Homo sapiens: one gene and its partner. The protein of the gene in region 2 interacts with the protein of the main gene of each other region in a pairwise test. Each region holds a gene or a part of one and is shown on either strand. Other genes may lie near its edges.

Region 1 (3,808 bases), on a different chromosome or scaffold from region 2:
GCACAGGCAGACTTCAAGGAGGAATCACCCAAGAAAAGAAATACCTGCATTCTGGTTCCCTCCTCTCTTCCTTTCAACACCCACGGGCAAATAACTCATCAATCCCAGGAATCCAAAACTCCTTCCTTCTCAGGGGGCTGGGTGGACTGGAGACAGGCTTATTTCACAGCTGAGACTGGGGCTACCCATCTCCCAATTCTCCAGGAGAACTAGGATATTTGTCTCCCAACTCAGTTAACTGTTAATACAGTATGTTACATAAGCCCCTTGGATAAAAAACAAGGATTGAGGGGGAAATATTAGATAAAGGAATTTTCTTTTACAGTTCATGGTATAACAAATAGAAGTTTGCTAAGAGTTTCAAATACTGAATATATACTCGACCCCACACTTCCTCCCCAATTTCCCCATAACCCTTGCAGAAAATCAGCAAGATGCTGTTTAAAAACACCAAAAAACCATTGAAATAAAAATGATATCTAGGCCAGAGTTCACAAATTGGCAGGCCTGCAGGGTGATTTTGCCCAGAGAAGTTTTGTTTAGTCTGCAGAGGTGTTGTTTTTAATTTGAATTAGTTGCCAACTTAAAAAAAAAAGTCTACAATTTTTACATAAAAAACCAAGTAACCAAATTCTTCTGCACAAGTACAGGTTGTTAGTACAAGGTAACAATTGCCAAAAGCTCAGCGGCAGCTGTGTCCTCCAGATGAGTCCCCGGTGGCAATAGAGGCCCACTCCAGAGCCAGCCCCCCACAACCCCGTCAGTGCTCACCCCTTGAGCCCTGTGTAACACAGGCGTTCGTGTTCCTTGGCCTAACCAAGGAATAAACAGCAACCAGCCATATTTTGCCGTTCTTAATGGTGACTTTCAGAGCAAAACGGGAAGGGGATCAGAACCAGACAAAGGGACCTTATTTTTTCCCCTGCATTTCATCTAGAAATAAAATGACCTCCAAGTAAATACTGGTAGGCATCTGGAATGGACCAGGCCTGGGAAAGGTATACTCATATATTCTTCCCACTCCCGCCCCATTGTGGCCCCCACACCGATCCACCTAACACAAGATAGATAGATATGAAATACCATGGCCACCATCTTGCATCCTTTGGTAATATTGTTGACAACTACCCCCCTATCCCAGAGAAACTTGAAATAAAGACAGGCCCCCAGCACATCTTCTATAAAAGAAGGCCACAAGCATCCGAGATTCTAGAATACCACAGATAAAGAGGTCAGGTTTGGAGTGTGCAGAGAAGGTTCCCTTCACACACTTTTTTGACAAATGAATGACTCTGGACAAGTTACTCCTGATGCCTCAATGCCTGTAGAAATGTAAAAACCACCTGCAGTGTAACCAGGAGATTTCTATTTCAAAAGCAGATGTACAAATAAGGTCCTTAGCTAATCTCCTACTGTTAAAACATGTTAAAATCAGATAAGTAATATTACCTTGTATAAATCAGCAATTGTCCCTTATATGTAAGTGAAATGGTAATAACTGAAGTTCAATTCTATTAATAGTAGGCAGCATCCAATGAGGAGTCAGGAACCTGCCCTCAGTGAGGGACAAGACTATCCTGGCAAGTCATTCTTCCTCTAGTTCTGTGAGACGGGAGAATACCAGTTACCTCTCCCTTACCTACTTTATAAGGATGTCGTAGTCCATCAACCATCTGGAGTACCTTGGGAACAGGGTGGTATATAAACAGTCATATTCGTATTATCATTAGTCTTGCCTCACAAGCTGCCTCAATGTAATGATAACTTTTTAGGAACCTGGTAAATAAGACAAACTGCTTCCCCTCTCCCAGTGAGAAAGGATAGGAGTGAGGGAGACAATTAAGGAAGAAGCCCAGATCAACACCCACCTCTGTTCTGATGGATACTGGTTTTCAGGCATCATCTTTGGCATCTGCAGGGGCTGATGTGGTGGTCGGGGGACCGCAAATGTTTGCTGCTGTGGTCCAGGCTCTGGAAGCGAATGGGGGGCGGGGGCGGGGCCCACACCTTGAACTGGGCCAGCTGCAGGGGCATGCCCTGAGGTGGGCAGAGTTGCCTGAGGTGGGGGAAATAGGGGATTCTGATGGGTGGGTGAGAGGGGGGTTGTAGGAGGGGTTAATGGCTTGAACCCAGAGGGAGGCTTCCTATCATAGGCACTGTAAACAGAAAAAGAGAAGGAACCATTAAGCTGAAATGAAGCCATTAGCATGGTTACCAGGTCCAGCAGAAAGCTAGTTTGCAGCCCATTGTTGCCAGGAAATAACAGCATTAACATAGTTAAATCGCTCGTAGCCCCGAGGGGATATTTGTACCTCTGAAAAGTGACAAACACACTGCGTCACAGGGACTTGTTTAACACTTCTAGTGATTTTTCTCAAGGATAATTTTAGCCTCTGCTTCCGGTTTCCTTTTTCCCTCCTTCTAAAAGAATTCTCCGTGTATGCCTGTGTAGGGTGGGTGGGTGAGGGGAGAATGTATGTTTGCCAGGTGTTCTCTGGTCCCCTCTCCCAACTATTTCCAGGGTTCCCAGGAATTAGTCAGAATATGTGTTGAAGGTCTGTTTGTGCTGTGACATCATTTGAATTAACAACTCTTCTCCTCCCCCTTTCAGGCAAATCTATGTTTATCTTCTAGAGCAAAGAATGATTTAAAATTAAAGCTTCATTCCTGGGGCCTGGATATTCTTAAGTAAAGGGCACAAGCTTCAAGACTTTTTCATATATTCTGATTTGGAGATTACTTCTCTGGTGCTTAAAGTTCACATTAACATATGATAGACATGAAGAAGTATATATTACCTGCCTCAAAGCCACAGATCAAGTATCCCAGGATTGAGACTCTTTCCCTAGAAGGACTGGGTACCCTATGAACTTAGTGCTCTGTAGAGCCACAAGGTTTTTAATGGTTTTCTTTTGTGTGCAGTACAATGATCCCAAGGGGACTGGACTACACCCGGAGGATGACACTGCCATGAAAGAAGGATATGTTTTACCACAGGGTCTGCTGGGTAAGTAACACTGGGAAGGAACATTCAGCTTGATGGCTACTTCCAGAGCCTTTCTGGGCAGCCTTTCTTCGACTCCTCTTGCCCACTCACCAATAGTTGTAGAGGCACTTTTCTCCATAGTTAGCACCAAGAGCCTGCTCATGGCTACAAGACGACAGCTCAGAGGAGGGGCTGTGCAGCTCCCGTTTGATCTTGGTTGGAGGTGGGGCATGAAGCACCACTGAAATCAGAAGAGGGATGAGAGGGGAATAGAGAGAGAACAGCTGATTAACAGGGAGCACAATGCTTCCTTCTGCAAACCTTCTAACTAGCTGATTGTTCTTGGAACTCATGTCAAGTCACATGTCAGAAAAAGCAAAACGCTTAAACACACAACCTCCCATCCAAAGCCAATTAAATTCTTCAAAGTCAGAAAAAGTATCATCATCTGATACTTTTAATTAGCCAAGTCTTTTTTCCCAAATTTCTTTGGTCATGGGTCTTGCTTTCCAGAAGCTGCAAAATCCTTAAAAACCTTGCAGGTAATGGGTCTCCACCAAAAATGCAAGTGGCTGCAGACATGAAGAATTTTGTTTCCAAAAAGGACAAAACGACCAAAAATGTGTTGGTAGACATTACCAACACATTTAAGCTTATCAAAGGCTTAAAATTGCTGTGGCAAATATATTTCTTATTCAGATGCATATTTACAAATTAAATATAGAATTTTTAAAAAGTCCTTTCTCAAGTAACTTTAAATATCAGCTCTCAGCAAGAAATACTCAACTTTAGAGGCATTCCAAAAATTTTAAAAGCAAAGGA
Region 2 (4,238 bases):
TCCCAGCCCCCCTATGCTTTTTCTTCGCGTCCCCTCTTTCATTGGGATCCCCCAAGATCTCTGCCACCGCCCCCACCTTCCACCCAGCTCAGGCCACTTGGCAGTGCTGCCTCTTTGGCCTGCAAATGCTGTGCTCACCCAAACCCTCACTTACAATGACCTTCATTTTAGCCCCTGAATGCAGCCCTCAGAGGGCCAAGCTGGGGGCTAAACATACACAGAAGCTGGGTGGGGGGAAGGGGGCGGTGAAATGGAGGTGGCTGGGGAGGAGAGCCTTGACCATTTTGATCGCTAAGGTCACTTTGGGGCTTTGGTGGGGAGGAGCAGAAGCTCACAGCCTGACCAGCTGGGACCTCCCGGAGCCAGCTAGCCCCACCGAGCTGGGACAGTTGCTCCAGAGTGTAGAGTTGGCCTTTCCCTTGTTTGGAGAGGGGTTTGGCATCTGGGGCTTCAGGAGCCCAGGGAAGGTTAGGGTGCTGTGTACCCAAGCCCCAGCCTGAAAGTGCCTGGCTTCTGGGGCCTGCTGGCTCTTCTGGGCGCTTCTGCAAGGCTAACACTGGGCCCAAGCACAGAGTTCGTGGAGGACCTTGAACCAGGCTTGGGGAGGCACCAATGTCCCCCCACAGGGTCTGTGCTGCTGCATCTGCCTACACAAAGGGATGTGAGGCAGAGAAGGCAGAGACACATCAGAGAGATCTGTCAGGTGGAAGGGCCCTGAATTTTTAACAATGTCTCACTCCCAGGGGTAGAGGAGAAATATCCTGAGTGTGATATTTTGCAGAGAGGCAGAGAAAGCAGGCACACAATGTTTAGGGCCAGCGTCTGGGCTCCATTTGATCAGGTCAGCATTTATTAGTAGGAAGCAGTAACATTTACAACTGGTCCTCGGGCAGGAACCGGGAGGGCCACCACCCGCGGCCGCCCACGCGAGCCCAGCCTTCAGGGGAGAGAGCAGCGCGTCCAATGCACTGAGGACAAACCCCAACCCGCCCGAGGCCCTGGGCTCCTCTAAGCCTCACTGGAGATCTCCACCGAGGTCCCGCGTGCTCCCTGAGGAAAGGGGGCTTTCGCAACTGGTGGGCAACCCCGCCGGGCTTCACCGTGGGCTAGCAGCCGGGGTGTCCGCACTGTTGTCGCTCTGCCTTCATTCTTGGAATTGGGGCGCACTTGGCCCCTGTTTGGGCAGTGCTGGGGGTGAGGGGACTAAACTACAGCACTTTTCAGAAACATGGGGGACATTTACACAAGAGAGGGCTCCCCAAGCCAGCTTGCACTCACAAAATATAGCATTTCTTAAGGAACCAATGGAGCAGGAAAGAGAGGGAGTGGGATAGGGCGAAACCCCAAAGCCACTTGGTTTTTCCAACACGTAAACGAGCAAATACAGAGTCCCCCAAATACCTCAGAGACCAACCACACAGTCACTTCTATCTAAAAAGAAAAAAAAAAAGAAGAAGAAGTCCAAGTCGCTGGAGAGTTTCTGGAAATCAAGCACCAAACACCCACAAAGGAAAACAGCAACAACAACAAATCCGCTGCCCTTGAGCGCTCCCGCCAGCACCGCGCCGGGTCAGTCTCCTTTGGGGCATTTCTCCTTGCTCATCTTTTTCATTTTCATCCTACGGTTCTGAAACCAGATTTTGACCTGTCTCTCTGTTAGGTTGAGAATCCTGGCCACCTCGTAGCGCCGGTCCCGGGTGAGGTACATGTTGAAGAGGAATTCTTTCTCCAGCTCAAGCGTCTGGTATTTGGTGTAGGGACAGCGCTTTTTCCGGGTGGAGCGAGCGTGGATCCAGTTCGCGGCGGGGTTGTCTACAAAGAGGGAGGTTTGGAGACGGGGAGAGAGGAGAGGAGGGGAGGCAGGGAGAGACCACAGGGTGGGGAAGAGAGGTCGTTAAATTAATTTCACCAAGGATGGTCGCTTTTCACAACTTGTGGGGAATTATCATAAAAAGCCTTAATGCTCGCGCTCTGTTTACCGTACTAACTGAGCGCCCAGGGTAGGTGGTTATGGGAAGCTCTTTTTATGGATGCATGTTGTTCGCCTAGGCTTGGGTAGGCGTCTAGACGTTTTTATAGGTTAGTAAAACTATCAGTTTTGCACATTCGAGCCTTACAGGTTTCAGCAATAAATCAGGGGGCAATTTCTTTTGCACTTACTTGGGTCAAGTTGCTGCTGCTGCGGCTGCGAATGCTGCTTCTCCTCCTCCTTCAGCGAACAGCCTGGGATCGGGTGGTCGCTGCAAGCTGAGGGCTCCGACGAGCCGCCCGTCCCAGTCGCGGCCCCGATCCCTGCCCCAGGCCCGGTTCCCCCCGTCGCCGCTGCCGCCTTCTCCTGCAGGAACGAGTTGCACGAGAACTCGGGGCCGCTGCTCCCCTGGGACTCCCGGGCCACGGAGCACTCAGTCCGTTTGGAGGAGGAGGATAAGGAAGTGGAGGAGGAGGAGGTGGTGGAGGCGGCCGTGGCGGGGGCCGGGGCCGCTCGGGTTTCAGGCTTAATCCCGTAGTGGCGCCCGTTGGCTGGGCCGCTGGGGCCAGGGCTGGGACCGCGGCCCGGACCGCCGCCTCCACCACCACCGCCACCGCCCGCACCGCCCGGGAAGCCGGGCAGCGGCTCCATCCAGGAGCGCACGTAGCGGCCGGGCTCGGAGGCAGAGGCGGCCAGGGGCGGCGGGGGAACGTACGGGTGGTAGAGGCCGCTCATCGCCGCCGCTGCCGGGGGCTGGGAGGGCACCGCGGACCACGAGGCAGAGAACACGGCCGATCTGGGGGCAAAACTACACGAGGCGAACTCGGCGGCGGTGGCGGCCGGGCCATCAGCCACACCTGCAGGCCGGCCCTGCGCGCCTGGCCCCGGCGGCCCGAAGCGCGCCGCGAACACCTCGTCGCCCTCATGGCCTATAAGCGAGTCCACGTAGTAGTTGCTGAGGGTGCCACTGGAAGACATTTTGAGGCGTCCCGCACTCCCACCCAACATTACACTGTCCGCCGCCGAGCAGCTCCCCGCCGGCGCCCGAGCCACCGACTAGTTCGCAGGCTGCAGCCTCCACCATTGGTCGCGCGGCCCACGTGATCATATTTACCAATACCGGGAGTAAATCAGTCCGCTAAACTGGGGGCTGCTGTGATTAAAAAAAAAATCATCAACATAAGCGCCGCAATTAGAGCCCGCAGGCCCAGGTCCATGTGCCCGGCTCGGCCCGGCCCGACCTGGCCTGGCCCGCCCAGCGGCTGCCAGGACCACAGACGCGACCGCATCCAGAGGAGGCGCTGGGGACTATTTGTTCGCTTCTTCTTGCAGCCCTCGGTCCCGCAGTCGGGCCCCGTCGCTGACTCTCCAGCTTCCGAGCCGCGGGCGGCGAGTCCAGGGCACACGGAGCGGCCGCGGGGGCGCCAGGCCGGTGTCGCCCGAGGCAGGCGGGCCCTCGGGGCGGCCCCTAGCGCCCGAGGGGAGCTGTTCTCCCCTCGCCTCTCTCCCTACTCACACCCACCCCTCCCCACACATCCCCACACACACGCTTGCTCACAGCTTGTCGTGTTGTTTAAAACAGGTGGAAGACCTCTGTAATGATATTATGCCTTTCAATAAAAATTTTATGAGGTGTATTTGATTATAGATTAATGTGTCCCTAATAAAACGGACGGATGGAGCAGATCGGAGGGCCCCCTCCCCCTGCCACACTCACACACGCCCGCGCGGCCACACACACCCCGACGTGAGGCTGGGCACACGCCGCGGCCCGAGGGGCGAGCCGGGGCGCGGCGGTGGAGGACACAGAGGGGCTTCTGCCTGCCCTCGGAAGGGCGGGCGGCCGGGCGAGTTGGCGCAGCACGGACAGTGGCGGCCAGGGTGCTTCGTCTTCTCCGATGATGCTGGAAAGGCCCTGGAAGAGAACACGCCACAGGGCAGAACCCAAATGCTAGAGCAGCTTGCTCCCGCCCGCCGCCTCAGCCCTGCCTCAGCGAGTCTCCCCGGGCAGGGCCGCTTCGCGCGGTTCGCACTTAAAGGCCTCGGAGGAGACTCCCAAAATGTCTAAAAAATTCGGCCGAATGGCTAGGTCCTTGGGACACTCCCTTCTGATTTTTTTCCCCCTACAGAGGTGAGGTTGAGCAGCCTTGAATCTGAGGGAAATGCCCATTGTCACTCCCAAATCCATGGTACAAAGCCTCGGAAGCCCGGCTGGGAGCCCAGACAAAAGCGGCCGGGGCGCCGGCAGCGGAGGGCATATTCCTTGCTC

The links.
Region 1: the proteins of HOXD9 (region 2) and ETV5 interact in a two-hybrid assay, tested with the Homo sapiens proteins (one large-scale study listed by BioGRID and IntAct).

The regions. Positions count from the first base shown.
Region 1 is NC_000003.12:186,077,949-186,081,756, forward strand, and holds part of ETV5 (ETS translocation variant 5), read right to left. Parts: intron 3,228-3,808; coding exon 3,098-3,227; intron 3,000-3,097; exon of another isoform or gene 2,612-2,999; intron 2,157-2,611; coding exon 1,869-2,156; intron 1,862-1,868; exon of another isoform or gene 1,084-1,861; intron 267-1,083; exon of another isoform or gene 1-266. UniProt on the Homo sapiens protein: Binds to DNA sequences containing the consensus nucleotide core sequence 5'-GGAA.-3'.
Region 2 is NC_000002.12:176,121,508-176,125,745, reverse strand, and holds HOXD9 (homeobox protein Hox-D9), read right to left. Parts: upstream 3,028-4,238; 5' UTR 2,978-3,027; coding exon 2,161-2,977; intron 1,813-2,160; coding exon 1,571-1,812; 3' UTR 809-1,570; downstream 1-808. UniProt on the Homo sapiens protein: Sequence-specific transcription factor which is part of a developmental regulatory system that provides cells with specific positional identities on the anterior-posterior axis.